2 separate regions of the Homo sapiens genome follow, and region 2 is linked to region 1. Evidence: fine-mapped expression QTL. Tissue or cell type: monocytes after LPS. Region 1 holds a variant in brackets; the other region holds the start of a gene. All regions are shown on one strand. Distances are from middle to middle.

Evidence for each region. PIP is the estimated chance that this variant, and not a neighbour inherited with it, causes the effect. A credible set is the group of variants that fine-mapping cannot tell apart.
Region 2: it holds the start of AHI1, and the variant in region 1 is the best candidate, but not a certain one, in a credible set for the expression of AHI1 in monocytes after LPS (Fairfax 2014, PIP 0.64).

The regions. Positions count from the first base shown.
Region 1 is chr6:135,541,289-135,552,043 of GRCh38, reverse strand. The region is part of intron 2 of AHI1-DT (AHI1 divergent transcript); the gene reads right to left. Among named protein-coding and RNA genes, the nearest start is that of AHI1-DT, 49 kb to the right of the region's middle. The variant A/G (reference allele first, on the strand shown) is at 5,509.
Region 2 is chr6:135,492,963-135,503,717 of GRCh38, reverse strand. AHI1 (Abelson helper integration site 1) reads left to right here and starts at 5,978. Exons shown (of 29, transcript NM_001134831.2): 1 at 5,978-6,135; 2 at 6,469-6,530; 3 at 7,820-7,904. It overlaps AHI1-DT (AHI1 divergent transcript), which reads right to left and starts at 5,917. Exons shown (of 6, transcript NR_152842.1): 1 at 5,718-5,917; 2 at 5,201-5,314. RefSeq lists silencers at 5,638-5,857, 6,208-6,267.

The sequences.
Region 1 (10,755 bases):
ATTCCTGAAAGTAAAAATCATGTAGATAACATCCTCTACTACAACAAATATAGAAATTAATCACAAAATTAGAAAAACAAAATATACTGCTACATGTAAGTTTAATTTCTCTCTAACACAACTTTTGCATCAAAGGAAAAACTCTAAATCAAAATAGTAAGGCATCTAGGAAATACCAGTAGTTCAAATACCACATAATAGAAATAATAGGATATGGCTAGAGCAGAGAGAAATGTATGTATTTAAATACTTATATATCTAAATAATTAAGATTACAACTAAGTTTATAAGACATTTAAATTAAACAGTTGTAAAAAAACATAAAAGAAAGGAAACAAGAATTAAAACAAAAATAATGAAATAGAAAATAGCAGAACTAATAGAGAAATAGAAGAGTTCAGTCTTTGGAATAAAAAATACATTTCATAAACTATTAGCTAAGCTAATTAAGAAACCTAGAAGGAGGCATAAGCAACAAATAAAAATGGGTGGCAAGTTTTACCACAAGGTCTTGTACATAAAGATGTTCAGTGAATATTTGCTGAATGATTAAAGGAAATAATTAATGAAGCCATCTCAAGGCTGCAGTGAACTATAATTGCACCTGTGAATAGCCACTGCACTCTAGCCTGAGCAACACAGCAAGATCCATGTTTTTAAAAAAAAGCTCTATTCGATTTTAAATTTTTTCACATTACTATATTTCATTCAGTTCTAAGATTCACATTTTAATAATTCATTCAATTCTAAGTTTCACATTTTAATATCTTTGAAATTGAGGCTTATCTTGCTATTGATTGTATCTGACAACAGCTGCGGATAAATTTGGTTATTTCTGGTGACATGACTGCATGACCACAATCCCTTCACATTTCCCGCAACAACTATTTCAAAACCATTTCAGGAAGAAATATGAATCTTGCTCGTTGACTGAGCATCTTCCATGGCCACCTTCTGATAAGCTAAAGACAGTGTCATCATCAAAACTTGGAGAACAGGTATCACTGATTTGGAAGAAAATCCAGAAGGCAATCGTATTGTTTTAGGAAGTGCCGTATGTTATCTCTTGGTTGGTACAGGCAAAAATATTGTGGAGAAAAACATGGTATCAATGACTTTGCCTTGAAAAGTAAATTAGAAAATTCAGACATTGGATGTGTAGTCTCCAGAGACTATCTGCATTTCATGGTCTCCAGTTTGTTAGCTTGGTCTCTGTTGGAACATTTCTGATGTGTTAATGTGCCTCCTACAACAAGAACACCAAGTGGCTCTTCTATTCCTCCTCCCCTATTCTATAGCCCTTCTCTGACACTCAGCTCTGTGGCTGGCACTCTGCATCCTCTTAACAGACCCCAGAAACTGACGGCCTAAGCCCAGGATTTCCAAGTCTCACCAGGCTTTGTGTCTCCATAGCTGAGCTCCACTCTACTGGTGTAATAAATTACCATTTCATTGATGTTCTTATATCAAACTGTTTTCCAGAATTGTGATTGGAGATGACAGTATTTGGGGGGTACCAGTCCTAGCCACACCTTCTCCATGATCTGGACTCCTCAATATTACACTAGATGAAATTCACTAGTCTTGTGAATTTATCAAGACATGATTCTTTGCTCCAGCAAACAGAACAACAGGAAGGAATCCACGTTTGACACACCCACACATCACGGGGGTGAAAAGAAAGCCCCCAAAAAGGATTAAAGCTATTTGGGTTTTCTAGTTCTAAGCACTGATACTTTGGATCATATTTTTTAGCATTTTAAACAGTAATCAAACATTAAGTTTTTAACATATATTTCAATTTATTTTGAGAAGTTGAAACCAAAATAATGGGTTATAAGGGCTGTAATTTTTATGGCAAACATCAAACAAATAATGAATAAAGCTGAACACTTCGGTAACAATGTGATTAGCATTTAATCATAAACTCCATCTGGAAGAAGTCCCAAATCTTAGCAATAAGCTAAGATTTATTAACAAGAGCTCTATGGAGGACAAATAAGTGTATATTAATAAAACAATGGTAACTATTCTTTGATTATTACAGGAATTATTGTGCTGGCATAGTGTCATTAAATACACTATCAGTGTAGTCTATTTAATTCTTTCTATGTAGGAATTACTAATCTAATTCATATGTTTTTAGTGGGAGGGAAAAAAATTTGATGCAGCATTTTTGCATTTGAAATGTCTGTTATAGTTTAAAATGATCACACCTTTTGGCTCAACAATTCTATCCCTAAAAATATACCCAGCAAAAAAAAAAATACCCAGCAAAAAAAATTACTTACTGTACAAAGATATATGTTCAATGACATTCACTGTAATATTTCTTGTAAAAGTAAAAATTTAGAAATAACCCAAATGGCACTCAATAAGGGATTGGTTAAACAGATATAGCACATTCATTCAATGAAATACTAGGCAGTAAATAAAAAAGAATTAGTAGGTCTTTATGTTCTGACACGAAAAGGTGTCCAAAATGTCCAAAAGAAAACAAGGGATAATAACAGAACAGTACGTATGCTATGATTCACATTTTTATTAAAAATAGATATTCCATAGCTGGGCTCAGTGGAGCGTACCTGTAGCCCCAGCTGCGCGTGAGGCTGAGAGGCTGAGGTGGGGGGATTGTTTGAGGCCAGGAGTTCAAGGCTGCAGTGAACTATGATTGCACCTGTGAATAGCCAAACGGCACTCTAGCCTGGGCAAAGTAGCAAGACCCATATTTTTTAAAAAATAGTCCTTTTAGATATTTAAATATAGACATACTATTACTGATAAATTGGGTTATGAGCAGTATCATAACTGAGCAGTATAATACCTATTTTGCTTTCTGTGTTTTACAATGTGTTAGTGTTTTCTACATTTACATTATCATTAGAACAAGAAAAAACAAAGATTCACAAATATTTTAAGATTCTGTCCCATTTGCCTTCACTATAGCATTTTCCTATAACTGATGTCCCTGAGAAGAAAACTGGGCAATGTTGCCAGCATGGAACAATTCAGAAAATGTCACTGCTCTATGCAAACCCCCTGTTACAGGTGAAACTGTCTGCCTCTGACATATTCATATGTTGAAGTCCTTACCCTCAGTATTTCATAATGTGACATTATTTGGAAATAAGGCTGTGGAAGCTATAATTAGTTAACATGAGGTCACTGGGGTGAGCCCTAATCCAATATAACTGGTGTCTATAGAAAAAAATGGGGAAATTTATACACAGACAACCACAGAGGGAAAACATCATATGAGATGAAGGCAGAGATAAGAGTGATGTTTCTACAAGGAACGCCAAAAATGATCAGTAAACAACAAGAAGCTGGGTGAGAAGTATGGAATAGATTGCCTCTCACTGCCCTCAGAAAGAATTCTGCCTCCAGATGCAGAAGAGTTTCCAGACTTAAGATTGCAATATCAACTCTGACCTGAATCTCCAGCTTGCCCGTCATACAAATCTAGGACTTGCCAGCTCCCTCAATTGAAAACTAAATCTCTCTCATCTCTCTCTCTCTCTCTCTCTCTTTCCCTCCCTCCCCACCCTATTGATTCTGTTTACCTGGAGAACCCTATAATACACCTGCCTCCATTTCTAATGAATTGATTCAAACTCTGTAACTTTCCATTCAAGATCTCTCTCACCTGGCTCCAGGACCACCCTTCCCCTAGACATTCACTGGCCTATACAACCTAGCCAGGTAGAAATATACCATGCTTTGTCACCTTCGTATTTTTGTTTACACATTTATCTCCACTCAGCACATAAAACATCATAGTATGTGAAATTAGCAAGACAAATCATGAAACAATTATGGTCCTTTTGTGCTTTTAATAACCATAATATTGATTTCACAGAATTTTATCCTCTCCTTAAAAAGTTGGTAAGAACGTACCCTCTAAAAACGGTAGCCCTTTAAAATATGCCTTACATAGTATAAAAGAATTATCCAACTCTTCAGGTGTCTCTCTTTCCCCCTTTTTCAACAAATGTCCATATGGCTCTTCTCAGTCTGCAAAAACCCTGCCAATCATCCTAACATACTCAGATCTTTCCTCCTTTCCTGATTACTTTATATCAGAGTCTCTCAACCTTGGAATTATTATTGACATTTTGGGCCAGATAACTATTTGCCAGGGGCTGGGGCTATCTTCTGCATTGTAGGATGTTTAGCTTCATCTCGCTTCTCACTAGATGCCAGTAGCATACCTTCCACCTTACCCACCTCACCAGTTTTGACAATCAAAAATATCTCCCAAAATTGCCAAATAGCCCCTAATGTGCAAAATAGCCCGATTGAGAACTGCTGATGAATATAGTACTCACACTTTCCCTTGGGCCACAATAACATCAAGGGCCTCATTCTGCATTGCCAGCAAAAAGCTGTCACCATCGTTTATTTCCCCACCTTGCTTTTTCCACCAGGTGAATGACGGGAAAAACCAGTATCAGAAATATCAGGAGATTTTATAAATAAATAGAATAGATTAATCTTCTTGTTCTTTGGTTGAAGAAGAATTATGCAGTATAGCTGTTATGTTAATACTGTTATGTCTTAGAGGAGGGAAACAATTATAAAAGATAAATGTATTTTTGTTCTATTATTTCACTGGTTATATGTTAAAGAAAATGAACTTAGTATGAAAATCGCTCTCCCTGAACTTCAAGAGCTCCATAATGAAACCCAGTGATTCACCCTTTCTCAGTGAAGAATGGACTTCATAATCAAATGAAGAAAAAGCAGTTCTTCAAAATGAACAATAGTGCATTGCAGTGAAGCAAAATCCAGCACATGAAATGCAGATAACCTGCTCTAACACTTGCATGCCATTGGCTGCTGGTGTGCAGCCAAAATTTAACTGTCACCCTTGGAAGAACTGAGGAGTGAAGTCAACTCTTGATTTTCCACACTAATGGAAACAAATGTGTCTGACCTAGAAGGTCATCAATCTCCATCCATGAACGCAAGTGGGTGAGAAATATTTTTATTTCATTCAATCTAATTTTTCTGTCAAACCCTGATGCTAGGGCAAGGGTAGGAGGTTGTGAACATTCTACTGCTCTCACAACACTGTCTGGGAATTTTGCCACTTCCCTGGGTTTCTGCCAAGAATGGGCCCTCCGCCCATTGGTCACAGGGAACGACAGAGGGAGGGATAGGAACACAGGCCCGCGGGCCAAAGCCTGTGCCCCCTCCACATGCCCGCACCACTATGGCCCCCTCAATCTTGCTGCCCTTGCCACATTCCTAAGGACCCACCCTCCACGGTGTAGCCACACTTAAGCAGAAGTGGGAGCAGCCCCAGGAAGCTTCCTTCTAGGGCTGATCCAGCAGGGAATCCAGGTGGGATTGAGGGGACGCCTCTCCTTGGCCCCACAGAACCCGAGGGAGAAGCCTCCAGGGGCTCCAAGGTCCTTGATGGAACTGGGGCTCCCTCTTTGAAACCCATCCAAACGCACTGCCACCACATCCTCCCTGTTCCCTCTTTTCCCCTTCCTTTTCTAT[A/G]TAAACCCCTGGGAATCTTTTCCTCTCCAGAAGGCGAAAGCAACAGTCACCCTTGATGTTTCTCTTATATAATTTGGCTCTACCCAGAGACTCTCTATTGTCCTAAAGGAGTGAGCTTTTTGCCAGGAAGTTTCCTGAATTTGGGGAGTGTGGGGGAGTTGTTTCATTTGTTTTCTGTTGTCTACCATGTCATATCCTTTCCCTGAGATACTGAGTGGAAAGCAGCTTTGCTGCTTAAACAGCAAGGAGATTAATCAGTAGGAGGGAAAAGAGATGTATGTTTCTAAAAACATCATAATCAAAATATTGTAGGTGTATGTATTATTATTTGATTATGAGTCTATATTTGATAATGACTGATGTTCAGAAAATAGACAGAATAATGAAACATTATTCATTACTAAACTTTTCTATTACTTCTACCCAAACATCTTCATGCATTTCATTTGAATTAAAAAATATGGTAGTGCTGCTATTGTGTACATAGAAATTGAGAAGTCTATAGGCAATAAATCATATATTATGTGGGTAATTCCAATAAGAGGATATAAAAATCCTGAGTACTGCATTCTCCCAGTATTTATGCCAAGGGAAGACACAGATGTGTGCTGTTAAATGAAGATCCTAAACACTAATTGCATCTCCTGTATTCCTGATCTTCTAGGATTTCTACCAGAGCAGGACAAATTTGGGTCCTAGAAGGCACTATTAAGACAGATTTCCTATCTTCTGCCAGGCAACTGCTGTTGCCACCATAAGGCAATCATCTTGGGAACTCATTAATTCTGTTCCCTGTATACCTGGAGTAGGATTTCTTCCAAATGACTTTATCAGTTAAGTTTCTTTGGCTGTAAGCAACAAAGATCTTAAAATGCTAGCTAATTTAAGATTAAAGAAAATGTATTGATTGGCACAGCTGAAAATTCTAGAGTTGGAATGGTTTCAATCAAGCTTGATTACGACCTCATCCTTAGGGGCTGCCTGATGCTTCCTGACATCCTCAGTTTCTCACCTGAGGCAGCAGAAGAGCTAGCTAGCTAGCTAGCTAGCTAGAGCTAGCTTCCCAAGTAGTTCAAAGAAAAGACCAGACGTTTAAACCTGGGTCTTGTGCTGAACCACCCACTGTGATCATAGGACTCTAACCACAGCGACAGTCTGAGGTGGAGGCTGGCAAACTTTTGCCATAGAGGACCAGATAGTAAATATTTATGGCTTTGCAGGCCACATGGTCTCTGTCACAACTACTGACCTCCACCATTGTAGAGCAAAAGCAGCCATGCATAAATGGATTAGCATGGCTAAGTTACAATAAAACTTTATGGGCACTGAAATTTAGATATTATTATTTTGATTTTTGTTGAAGCCACTTAAAAATATAAAAATCATTCTTAGTTCACAGTATTTATAAAAATAGGTGGCATTTTCTTCAGTACATATTTTACTTGAAACACACAGAGTGAGGGAGAAATGGGTCCTTCAGAACAAAGTTAGGATAGTGAGTACCGAGCAAGCAACACAATGAGTATTCACCCCAGCACCATCATGCTTCATAGTTTTAGATCATGAGGGCTCAGGAAACTCATAGAACTTGTCCTGAAGCTAGAAACCCAACAAACAGCCACTCCCAGCTCCTCAGTGCTGTTCATAACCCCTACCACTCACCTCTAGAGTTATCCAGGTGGCAGAGTCCATATAGCTGTCTACTTTCTTTGACATCCACAAAGCAAGAAGGTCACCAGCGAGGATAGCTGTGCATATTCTGCATGTGGACCACGTGGTCAGTGCCCACTCCCAGTGTTACTGACACCAAGAAACATTATGGTTTGGGATAATACACATATTCTTTCATTTATTCAGCAAGGAGCTAGTTCTTAATCACCACTTATTGTTCTAGGCACTTACTGTTCCTGTAGCAGAAAACAAAAGAGAAAAAGCCCTGCTCTCATGGAACTTATGAATGAATGAATGAAGAAAATAGAAAAATAAAGCAGTGACATGGGTTAGGAAGTGTTGGGTGTCACTTTTTTTTTCATGAATTTTAATTTTTTTAATTTTTTTAATTTTTATTTTAGTTTTGGGGTATATGTGAAGGTTTGTTACATAGATATACATATGTCATAGGGGTTTGTTGTACATATTATTACACCACCCAGGTATTAAACAGAGTACCCAATAGTTATCTTTTCTTCTTCTCTTCCTCCTCCTACCCTCCCCCTTCAAGTAGACCCCAGTGTCTGTTGTTTCCTTCTGTGTGTTCATAAGTTCTTATCATATAGCTCCCAGTTATAAGTGAGAATATGCAGTATTTGGTTTCCTGTTCCTGTGTTAGTTTGCTAACGATGACAGTCTCCAGCTCCATCCATGTTCCCACAAAAGACATGATCTCATTCTTTTTTATGGCTGCATAATATTCCATGGTGCGTATGTGCCACATTTCCTTTATCCAGTCAGTCACTGATGGGCACTTAGGTTTATTCCATGTCTTTGGTATTGTGAGACAATAAACATTTGCGTGCATGTGTCTTTATGGTAGAATGATTTATATTCCTCTGGGTATATACCCAGTAATGGGATTACTGGGTCAAATGGTAGTTCTGCTTTTAACTCTTTGAGGAAATGCCATACTGCCTTCCACAATGGTTGAACTAATTTACACTCCCACCAACAGTGTAATAAAGTATTCCCTTTTCTCCACAACCTCCCCCGCATCTGTTATTTTTTGACTTTTTAATAATAGCCATTCTGACTGATGTGAGATGGTATCTTATTGTGGTTTTCATTGCTTTTCTCTAATAATCAGTGATATTGAGCTTTTTCTCATATGCTTCTTGCCCATATGCATGTCTTCTTTTTGAAAGTGGTCACGTCCTTTGCCCACTTTTTGATAGGGTTGTTTTTTCTCTTGTAAATGTGTTTAAGTTCCTTATAGATGCTGGATATTAGACCTTTCTCAGATGCATAGTTTGTAAATATTTTCTCCCATTCTGTAGCTTGTCTGTTTACTTTGATGATAGTTTCTTTTGCTGTGCAGAAGTTCTTTGACCTAATTAGATCCCACTTGTCAACTTTTGCTTTTGTTGCAATTGCTTTTGGTGTCTTTGTTGTGAAATCTTCGCCCATTCCTAGGTCCAGGATAGTATTGTCTAGGTTGTCTTCCAGGGTTTTTATAGTTTGAGGTTTTACATTTAAGTCTTTAATCCATTTTGAATTGATTTTAGGGTATAAGGAAGAGGTCCAGCTTCAATCTTCTGCATATGGCTAGCCAGTTATCCCAGCACCATTTATTGAAAAGGGAGTCTTTTCCCCATTGCTTATTTTTATCAGTTTTGTCGAAGATCAGTTGGTCATAGATATGCAGCCTTATTTCTGGGGTCTCCATTCTGTTCCATTGGTCTATTTGCCTGCTTTTGTACCAGTACCATGCTGTTTTGGTCACTGTAGCCTTGTAGAATAGTTTGAAGTCGGGTAACATGACGCCTCCTGCATTGTTCTTTTTGCCTAGGATTGCCTTGGCTATTCGGGCTCTTTTTTTGGTTCCACATAAATTTTTAAATAATTTTGTTTAGCCTTGTGAAAAATGAAGTTGGTAGTTTGATAGGAATAACATTGAATCTGGAAATTGCTTTGGGCAGTATAGCCATTTTAGAGATATTGCTTCTTCCTACCCATGAGCATGGGATGTTTTTACATTTGTTTGTGTCTTCTCTGATTTATTTGAGCAGTGTTTTGTAGTTCTCATTGTAGAGATCTTTTACTTCCCTGCTTATCTGTGTTCCTAGGTATTTTATTTTGTATGTGTGGCAATTGTGAATTGGATTGCCTTTCTGATTTGAGTCTCAGTTTGGTTGATGTTGGTGTGTAGGAATGCTAGTGATTCTTGTACATTGATTTTGTATCCTGCAACTTTGTTGAAGTTGTTTTTCAGCTGAAGGAGCTTTTGGGCTGAGACTATGGAGTTTTCTAGATATAGAATCATACCTTCTGCAAACAGAGATACTTTGAATTCTCTTTCTATTCGAATGCCCTTCATTTCTTTCTCTTGCCTGATTGCTCTGACTAGGACTTCCAATACTATGTTGAATAGCAGTGGTGAGAAAAGGCATTCTTGTCTTGTGCCAGTTTTCAAGGGGAATGCTTCTAGCTTTTGCCTGTTCACTATGATGTTTGTTGTGGGTTTGTCATAGATGGCTCTTATTATTTTGAAACATGCTCCTCCAATACCTAGTTTTTGAGACTTGTTAACTTGAAGGGATGTTGAATTATTTCAAAAGTCTTTTCCACATCTATTGAGATAATCATGTAGTTTTTGTCTTTAGTTCTGTTTATGTGATGAATCACATTTATTCATGAACCAACACTGTCTCCCAGAGATGAAGCCTACTTGATCATGGTGGATTAACCTTTTCAGGTGCTGCTGGATTCGGTTTGCAAGTACTTTGTTGAGAATTTTTCCATCAATGTTCATCAAGGATATTGGCTTGAAGTTTTCTTTTTTGTTGTGTCTCTGCCAAATTTTGGTATCAAGATGATGCTGGCCTCATAGAATGAGTTGGGAAGAAGTCCCTCCTCAATTTTTTGGAATAGTTTCTGTAAGAATAATACCAGCTCTTCTTTATGTATCTGGTAGAATGCTACTATGAATCCATGAGATCCTGAGGCTTTTTTAGTTGGTAGGCTATTTATTACTGATTCAATTTCAGAGCTCATTATTTATCTATTCAGGGAATCTATTTCTTTCTGGCTCAGTCAGATGTCACTTTAAATCGAAATCGGTGGTCAAGGAAAGCCTTTCTGCAAAGATGACACTCAAACAAAGATTTAAAGGAGAAGAAGAATGAGCTCCCCAAAATATATAGGGAAGAGTATTTTAAGCAGAAAGACAAGCAAATGCAAAGGCCCTGGGGCAGAAGTGTGGACCAGTAAGAGGAGATGAAGTCAGAGGAGTAGGGGAGGGGACACAAATCACAAAGGGCCTTAGAGGCCATGGTACTGACCTTGACTTTCAGCCTGAGTAGAGGAGCCATAGAAGGGTTTTTGAGTAGAGAAGACAGAGTTTGATTCTCAAGTGATCATTTCTATTGTTTTGTTGAGAGTAGAGTTGTGAGGGGCAAGGGTGGAGGCAGGGAGACCAGTTTGGAGGCCTTTTTAATAAGCTAGATGCCTCAGCCGCCACTCTTGGGCAGAGAATATTCCACTGGTTGTGCCACAAATCTGTCTTCAAAACAACACACCTCCAAGTGCAGCCTA
Region 2 (10,755 bases), 48 kb after region 1:
TTCACACCTCTCATAAAGTTTAATTTATAAATTAGGCCCAGTAAGAGATTAACAGCAATAACTAATAACAATATAAAGTTTTTATAACAATATACTGTATTAATAGTTATTATGTAAATGTAATCTCTTATTTTCTCTCTAAAAATTTTCAAACCAAGCTTGTTGAGTGAAACCTCAGAAAGCAAAACCATGGTTAAGGGGGCACTATTGTAATAGCATGGAAATGAAATTGCAACATAATGTTCATTCAAGTAAGCAGAAATAAACATTTTACACACAACATGACCAAAATTAAAATACGCATGGAAAACAGACTGAAACGAAATTTGTCAAAAAAGTTAATTTAGATTCTCTTGGGTAGTGGTATTGAGTATTTTTTCCTTTTTTTCATGATTCTACATATTTCAAATTATCTATAATACATATATTCTTACTTTTATTTTTCCTGCTTATTATAAAAATTTCCAAACACACAAAGGAAAAAGTATAATGAAATACTAGGTACCTACCAGCCAGCTTCAACAACCATCAAAATTTAGATATACATGTGTCATTTCCTCTCACCTTTTAAAAAAATCTAGAATATTTTAAAGCAAATCCTGGACACCTTATCATTCTGTTCTGTGCACGTAAGTCATACTCTACATAACCACACCAACATTATTTTACCTAATGAAATTAATAAACATTTCTTAACATCTTCTAAATATTTAGCCCATAACAAAAAATCTGATTGCCTAAAACATGTTTTTCTATAGTTGGTTTATTTAAATTAGAATCCAAACAAGGCCCATTCATTCCATCTGTTATGGCTCCAGAACCCTCTCCAATAGTGTCATGGACTCAGTTATGCCCCAGTTCCAAATGCATATGTTGAAGTTCTAACCTTAAAGTACCTCAGAATGTGCCTGTATTTGAAGACAGAGTCTCTAAAGAGGTAATTAAGTTAAAAGGAGGTCATTAGGGTGAGCCCTAATCCAATATGACTCTGTCCTTATAAGAAGAGATTAAGATACGGGCAGGTACAGAGGGAAGTGCAGGTGAAGACACAGGGAGACAACAACCATCTACAAGCCAACAAGAGAGTCCTTAGAAGAAACCAACCCTGCAGACATCTTTATCTCAGTCTTCTAGCCCCCAGAATTGTGAGAATATAAATTTCTGTGGTACTTTGTTATGGCTGCCCCAGCAAACTAATACAAGCAAACTAATACAGAAAACTAATACAAGCAGTAAAGCCAACATCTGTTCTGATTGGTAAATGCACATCCTGTAAGGGATTTAAATATTTTGCATATCAGTCACATTTAGGCATTATATTATTCAAGAAATTCACTATTCATTATGTATTAAATGTGTCGAATACCCTAAATCTATTTTATTCCTAAACGGTTCAATTTATATACATACATATATATATACACACACACACACACATACACATATATGTGTATATATATTTATACATATATGTGTGTATATATACATATATGTGTGTATATATATACATATATGTGGATATATATTTATACATATATGTGTGTATATATGTTTATACATATATGTGTGTGTATATATATATATATACACACAATTTTTTTCATGGATACTCAGCCAATTTTTAGAATTATTACCATACTACCACTCTTAATTGTTTGCCTCTCCTAGGATAGCGGAGTGCCCTTGGTCTTGCACTCTCGACTAATGAGAGCTAAAGCAACATATCTGCTTTATTCAGTTTGAATGGGGCTCATTAATATGTTTAGTATATACTCAACTGCCTGCTGAACATCCCACTCCATACATCCCATTGCAACTAAACATCTTTTCCTCCATGCTTGCTCTTCCTGATTTTTTGTCGTTAACTGATTAGCCATTCTCCACCCAGTTACCTGAGCCAGAAACCTCGGCACCTTTCAAACTTCTTTTATAGTTTTAAAATAATTATAAACTTACAGAAAAATTGCAAGAATAGTATAAAGAACTTCTGCTTTCGCCCAAATTCCCTGTTAACATTTGCTTTATCATTTTCTTTATGTATATTATTTATGTTTATATTTATTTACAGTATTTATGTATACTTTTTTCCTGAACCATTTGAATAGGTTGCAGATATGAAGCCTCATCACCTTTAATACTTCAATATGTATTTTCTAAAACCAAAAATATCTATGTCACTATAGTCATCAAAATCAGGAAATTAATATTGTTAAAATACTACCATCTAATCCAGAGACCCCATTCAAATTGTTAGTTGTCCCAATAATATCCTTATAGCAAAAGGATTCAATTCAGAATCATGTATTCCACTTAATTGTCATGTATCTTAATTCTCCTTCAATCTAAAAACGTTCTTTAGTTGTTCCTTTGTCTTTCATGACCTTGATCTTTGAAGAGTACAGGTCTATTATTTTGTAGAATGTCCCTCAATTTGGGACATTTGGGTTGTCTGATTTTTTCCTCACGATTGATTCGGATTACACATTTTTGGCAGGAATGTCACAGAAGTGTATTCTAAGTGCCTCTAACCAGGACATACACGATGCTGATTTGTCTCATGACTGCTGATGGTAACTTCGCTCACCAGTGCCAGATTTCTACACTGTCAAGTTTTCTAATTTTTCTCTGTGTAATTAATAAGTATTTGCTGGAGAGATACTTTGAGACTATATAAATATTATATGTCTCTTAATACTCTCACCCTCTAGTTTTAGCATACACTGATGATTCTAGTCTGAATCAACTGTTACTATCATGACTGCCAAATAATGATGTTTCTACATATAACACTGTCTACATTCATTACATTTAGTTGGCATTTTTATGTAAGGCAGAGCTTTTCTTTATCCTGATTTTTCAAAAAAATCATTTATTCATTTTAGTATGGGCTCAAATATTCCTATTTTATTTAGCGGACTATAATCCATTAACATTATATTGGTGCTCAGATTGACCCAGATGTGGCCAGTGGTGGCTCCTTCAAGCTGGCTTCTGTGACCTTTTGATATGTTTCTTCATTCTGTATTAACTTCCTTAACTTCTGGTGCAACAAGAATTTTCCAGGCTCCTGTTCTAAAATCAACCATTTCTCCAAGGGACCCAGTTACTTTTAGTGAATAATACTGTTCAGAAACCAAGATCTAGGCACATGTGCTCATTGCTTCTAGTATACCATTACTCTGAAACCCTTTCAGCAGATAGAGCTAGGAAGAGCATAATAGATAGATACGCACACACATACAGACATACTTTCCTCTATATTTATTTTTACATATGTTTATGTATATATTGAAAACTATGAGTTGACACTGACATATTCAATTCCAATTCAACATCACCACAAAGGTCACTGTGGAATTCTTCCTCTCTCAATTTGTAACGTCCTTCTCTGTCAGTGAGAAACCTGGCTCCCATTAGACCCAACATATTTATTTCCTCACTCCCCTTTCATGCTTGCCACCTCTTTACTTGCCAAGGGGAAGGCAAAACAGCTGGTCATCGTTTTTTATTATTTCTTATCATTCACTCTTCCATCCAATCAATCACTAAGTCCTGACATTTTTACCTCCTAAAAATTTCTCAAATTGGTCCATTTCTCTCCATTCTGATTTTTCTTAGCCTTGACCATGCCACCTTTGTCTCTTACATGGCTTACAGCAACGGCATCTTAAATGGTATTCCCAGATCTAGATTTGCTTCCTTCCTGTCTGTTCTCCACCCTGCAGCCAGAGTTATCTTTATGATATTAAAATTTGAAAATTTCACTCCATAAAATTCTATAGTGGTATTCCACTGACCAATACTGTCTGGGTCTCTTCATAGCTTGTTTAACTCTCTTGTTTTGTCTCCTCCAAAAGCCCCTAGTCTCATTCTCTACCTTTTAGTTAGCCAACTTGAACTTTTTTTTTTTTTCTTCCAGTTCTTGTATTATACCAAACTTTCTTGTAGTGAACACTATACGCCACCTTCTTCTACCTGGAAACCCTTCCTAACCTGGACAACTCTACACATTATTTTGGTCTTTACTTAAATGTCACTTCTGCTATGAAATATTCCCTGACCTCCCCCACCCCACTGCACCTCTGCATGCTACTGTAAATGGAGAAGCAAGAGATGATAACAGGGTTACACATCCGCTAGTCTGGGGATTGTATTCTGAAACTAACACCCTACTAAGAATGAGCAGTCAGAGTTATAACTTCCCTTTGGAAAAGCAGGTACTTAAATGCAGTTGTGAGGACAGATGAAAAGTACATAAAACACCTACAATGCATACCTCCTAGAAGGAGCTCAATATATGTTATCCATTATTCATTCAACAAATGTTCATGAAATGCCAACTATTTCATAGACACTGTGGTAGATGCTGGGGATAGAGAAAATACAAAGTAAACTATGAAACTATAGAATGAGCATCCAAAGTCTAATATATAGAATGAGTATCCGAAGTCTAATAGGGAGTAGGAGTGTTTGAAGGAGTCAGTCAACCTGCTTAAGATTCAAAGGATGGACAACATTTGGCTGTGATGCAGGAGTGTAAAAGGAGGAATTTTCAGGAAGAGAGGACAATATGAGTAAGGACGGGGCGTGAAAGGCTATGGATTGTTTTTCATGGTACACATAATTCAATGTTGCATAAAACTGCATGGTACACATGATTCAATATTGCATAAAATTGGAACAAGAAGCTAACGAGAGATGAAACTAGTCAGGGAGATGGAGAATCTTGTATCCTAGGCAAAGTAATCATTTTCTCTTACAGATTGCCTTTCAAAAATTTTCAGCAGGAGAGTGCCATTATCCGATTTACATTTTTAGTCAGGTCATTCTGATAGCAGTGTGGAGAATTTAAGAGTCAAACTGGAGTCAGAGAACTGGTAAAGGGCCCATCTGAGGAAGTTAAAAAGAGAGAATGGATATGCTTTGGCATAAGATGCATTTAGGATACTCTACTGTTCTTACTAAAACACTGGGAGGATTGTGGTGGCTTACAGCAAGATAGAAATCTAGGAGAGTATGTTTAGAACGGAAAGTTGAACAGCTCAGTTCGGTACGCATTGGATTAGTAATCTTTCTCGTTGCTTCCTCACAGGATTTAGGGAAGCACAAGACATATAGTTTGTAAGGTGTGGCAATGTCAGTAAGAATGGAAAAGCTGGCCTCCATAAACTCTTACTGTACAAATGAAGCAACAGCTTACAGCGGGTGGCTGTAGGTACAGGAAATGGCCTGTATTCACGAGTGTATTCACGAGTCCACGAGTAGCGCATCTAGTATTTTTCCAGCCCTGGTGACTCAGAGCTGAAGATGGCGCCTGTGGCAGAAATCAGAAAAGTGGGAGGGAGCATTAGGTGTAGAAAAGGATGGCGTTTTAACTTTTGTTTTGTTTTTCACACACAGGGAGATAGCTCTAAAGGAACAGTGGATAATTTTTTCTTAAAATTTTGTCTGTAGTACAACTTCATTTTCCACGCCTTAAAACCATGTTTTCTTTTGTGGGCGCGATCGCGTGGGGAGTGACAAATCTGTTTCTTTGCCTCATTCATTCATTTTCTTATTCTGGGCGGCTTCCATGACAGCCTCCCCAGTTTTCCTTTGCCCAGTCAGTTTTTCCCTGCGCTAGCTACAATTCTAAGGCGAAAAGAGCATTTTCGGAGGTGAGGGCGGGGAAAACTCAAGACTCTGTAGGGGCACCCGCGCATTTCCGGGTCCCTTACCGCTCCGAGTGGAGGAGACTGTTCCCGCTCGCGTGGCCGGGGAGGCGGGAGCCCCCTAAGTTCCCTGAAGCTCGCGCCCGCCTGCGGCCTGAGGGCCCCCGGGCAGGCGCCGCACGGCCCCTCCTCCTGGAAGAAGGCGGTGGAGGCGCGGGGACGGGGCCGCGGTCTTCGCCTAGAGCGCGGGACGCATCGGTCGCCATGGGAACGGCGGCGTAGGCAGGCGCTGACGTCAGCAGGCGGCGCGCTGTCCGCACTGCGGCACAGAGCCGCGGCTTGCTTTCAGGACACGGGTCGCTGGCGGGTTAGGTGGCTGCGTGGCCGCCTCACTTCGCGCACGCGCCGCTAGGCTGGGGGAGTTGATTTGCACTGCTCCGGGTGTCGGCTCCGGCGGGACGGGCGGTTCTGCGTACCCCTCTCCGTGAGTACATCATGGGTGCGCTGGTGGCGGGAGCGCGGGCCGGGGTGCTCGGCCTGCCCGGCCCTCTCCTGGGCGGCGTGTCGGGGCTGCTGGAGTCCGAGAGCGCGGAGGCTGATAGCGTAGTGACCGACGAGCGTGGGCCGGGTGTCCCGGGGGAATGCGATTTCTGAGAGTCCTCACCGTACTTTTGCGCTTCTTTCACTGGTCTCCGTGTCCCCGGAGAGTTGAGCATGGTGCTCTGATAGAGAATTCAATCTTTGCCTTTCCTACTCCCGATTCTTATTTAAATGCTTTTAAATCAGATGTGTACTGAGTGTGTTTATTTCCTTTTAGAGTGTCAACCTGGGGCTGAATCTTCAACCTGTCAAAGCCTTCTTAATTATGTCTGAGAAAAGGTGATCAATTTGTTATATTTATAAGAGCCAAATTATATTAATAGGGTTGTTTCGAGATGCATAAAAATAGAACAAAAATGTAGACCATTTAAGAATCCTTATCAAAGGTTGTGCTGCGTTTAGCATTCCTGTAAAAACATCTATTGTGAAAATAAAGCTTTCCCCTTTCTTTTGAGAAAGAGATGCCAACGATTTTTTCACCTGTTGCATTAACAGTTGCTGTTACTGCTTGGGCGTTAGGAGGAAGATTGCTTCTTATGAGTACTCTGGGAAATTTTTTAAAGAATGCTTGAAAGAAATTCAAATACCAAAAGTGTTTTTAAACCATACCTAGAATCTTGTTTATGAGGAATAATATTTATGAAGTTAGAATCTTGTTTACTTATGAAGAATCTTGTTGATTTATTCATTGAATTTTGTATACAGGATTTTTGTTTGTCTTTTTTTCCCTTGCGATAACATTTGGTTAAGGAGCGAATTATCAAGCCTCTCAGTTTTTTCTCCCAATGATATTGAGCCACATATTGGCTGATAATCAGGTTGTCTGTAAAATAAAATGAGATGAAATGTAATCCATTTAATTTTCCTGTGTAATATCTCTTAGACGCTCCTGTGAAAGGGTTTGTGAGGGAGAAGTTGTAAAATAATGGAATATATAAGAATCAGAGGTGTCTTTTAAAGTCCTATCTGATTTTTTGCAGAGGTTACTAATCAAATATTAGCCGTTAATTCTATCATGTTTGCTGTAGTACATATTAAGATTTAGAGATGGCTGAGCGCAGTGGGTCACGCCTGTAATCCTAGCACTTTGGGAGGCTAAAGTGGGTGGATCACTTGAGGTCAGGAGTTCAGTATCAGCCTGGCCAATGTTGGTGAAACCCCATCTCTACTAAAAATACAAAAATTAGCTGGGTGTGATGGCCCACACCTGTAGTCCCAGCTACCAGGGAGGCTGAGGCAGGTGAATTGCTTGAACCCAGGAGGCGGAGGCAGCAGTGAGCTGAGATTGTGCCACTGCACTCCAACCTGGGCAACAGAGCGAGACTCTGTCTCCAAAAAAAAAAAATTAGAGATGATTTCTGTACTGTATTTGCTGTGTTATCATTACATAATATTAGTATTTATTAGTTTAGTTGTGTATTAAGCTGTTAATAGTAAATAAGTATATGATTTATATATTTTATTTGTAATTATTTACTTATTTTTAATACAATAATAATGGACATAAAGTAATTTTATTGCAATGTACTGATTACTTTGCTTTTTGGTATTTTCTCTTCTCCTTACAGTACTAAAATAGGTGCCATTTTAAATTCCCAGACAAGGAAAAACCAAGGATTAGAAATTAAGTAGCTTGCCCAAGGCCACACATCAGTAAGTGGTGACACTAGAGCTCAAGCCTGAGTCTTTTTTACTCGCTTTGCTTTTGCTTCTCTTCACTTCGCTTCTCTCTTCTTCTCCTCTCTTTTCTTTCATAGTGGCAGATACATAACTATAAGAGAGCATTGGCTTGGTCCTCCAAAGCTAGCAGTTTGGTGGGAGTTACAGAACATTTTACCAGGGTGAAAATTCAAGGTTGAGGTAGAGGGAGCTACAAAGATTAAGGCACCCTGGAAGCACAGAAGAGAAGTTCTTAAATGCCCTTCAAGGTGAGAATGCTCTCTAGAGAAGATATCATTTGCCTTTAAAGGATAGTGAGGAGTTTGTTAGAGAGACAAAGGAGGAAGCACATTTTTCAGGGGAGGGGATATGTGTGTAATGATACAAAAGCAAGAGAGAACTTGGCACACGTGAAGGCCTGCAGGTAGTTTCACATGTCTGGAACACAGTGGATGTGTGAAGGGGACATTTCATAAATGGCCTTGGACCTCACTGGTAAGGACTTGATATTTTTTTCAATGTGCGATTGGGAGCTAGTGAAGAATTTTAAGCGAAGAAACGACACCATCACATTTGAATTTTAGAAAATTACACTAGTTGCTGTGTAGATGATGATTTTTTTTTTAAGGGAAAGGTGATAGCGGCGTGGAAACAATCTTAAAACAAAAAGCATAATCCTTCCACAGTGTTTTTGTCCCTCAGAGTTACTGTCTCATGTCACTGCCTTTGGGGGTGATGGGAAGACAGTTGGAAGAATTCTGTAAAGAATTGTCTACATGTCCCTTCTACAGGTGTCACCTTCCATTCATTCCTTAGCCCCAGCCTGCTAAGTTTCTGCCCCTCTATAAACAGCTTTGACACACGTGACTTCCTACTTGCAGATTCAGTGGACTTTCTTCAAAACCTCCAGCCCCTTTTGATGCCACACAGTATATAGGCAACATCTCCTTTAAAACTTGGGTTTGCTTCTGTAATGCTTCTATCTCCCAGTTTTTCACCTATCTCCCTGATTTTACTTTATATTGTAGGCTCACAGGATTCTCATTGGCTTTTTATTTTCTTGGAACTATCATATTTATAAATAACTCCCAAATCTTCAGCCTATTGTCTCCCTGCTGGATTAGTAGATTGCCTAACAAACATAATATGATTATATACGTAAACACACACACACGTGACAGTAATAACAGTTGTTGTTTTTGAAGGGCTTGCCATGTGCTAGGCATTGTGCCTAGTATTTTATTTGCATATTCTCATTTAATCTTTATAAAAACACTGTGAGTGATTTACTCTTATTATTGTGAAAGATTAGGAAGTTGATATCCATAGAGGTGAATCTGCTGGCAGATAGAACTGGTATTTGGATCCAAGGATCTGAAAATGGAGCTGATGCTTGTAGCTGCTCAGTGCCCTTCAGATACCCAACTCAACATGACCCATACTAAGCTCAGTGACTGCACCCTAACAACCTGTTACAGTTATAGCTAACATTTATTGTTGCTTCTTCTGTCTACGGTACTGTTCTAAATCATTTAACCCTTACAACAACCCTTTGAGTCGGCACTGGTAGGGTGTTTTTATAGATGAGGAAACAAAAGTCACGCAAGTGACTATGGAAACTAATTCTAGGACATGGATTTTAAACTACTGCCCTGTACTGCATTATATTACAGTGTAATGATACTACTAATCTACTTATTCTAGTTCTAGAAACATGGGAATTATCTCCGATTCTTTCTCCTGCCTCTTCATTAGTTATTTAATCTTTCTAAAATATTACCTCACTCCATCACCTGGAGCGCACTGGTGCAGTCTTGGCTCCCTGCAACCTCCACATTTCAGGTTCAAGCGATTTTCCTGCCTCAGCCTCCCCAGTAGCTGGGATTACAGGCACCCACCACCACGCCTGACTAAGTTTTGTATTTTTGGTAGAGATGGGGTTTTACCATGTTGGCCAGACAGGACACAAACTCCTGACCTCAAGTGATCCACCCGCCTTATCCTTCCCAAGTATTGGGATTACAGACATGAGCCACGGCGCCCAGCAGGCTTTTTTTTGATGAATCATAGTCATAATATAGGTCAGCTTTTTCCTGGCCTATTAGATGACCATCGAGTAGTATAAATATTAAATTTTTATTTGTTTTATGATTTTTCTACTTCCGTGCTCTCAGGTTTCAATTACTCATGCTGTCATTGCACTTGCCTTTGCAGCTTCTCTTTTCTAATTTAATATAGACTAGAAAGTAGAAGACTAGATTTATTAAATTTATAACTGCTAGAAGGAGTAAATACAGGCTCCTATCACTAAAGTATAGGAATTTTTACTCCATGGATTTAGTGATGTCTGTTTTGACTGGGTGCCACGTAGTTGTTGCCTAAGTTAACTGACATAGTTAGGTATGTTTACATAATCATTCCTTTCTTTTTAGAATTTCTTAGACATTTCTGCAAGAGGAACATGAATGTGGATGTCCAGGGAATTGGAGCATTAACCAATAATGCCTTGGGCCCAGTGTGGTGGCTCACGCCTGTAATCCCAACACTTTGGGAGGCTGAGTCGGGCAGATCATATGAGGTCAGGAGTTCAAGACCAGCCTGGCCAACATGATGAAACCCTGTCTCTACTAAAAATACAAAAATTAGCTGGGTGTGGTGGCGCACACCTGTAATCCCAGCCACTCGGGAGGCTGAGGCAGGAGAATCGCTTGAACCTGGGAGGCGGAGGTTGCAGTGAGCCGAGATCACACCACTGCACTCGACAAAGGGAGACTCCATCTCAAAAACAAACAAATCAATAATTCCTGAACCAGCTTTTTTTTTAACACTCTTCAGTTTTAGTCTC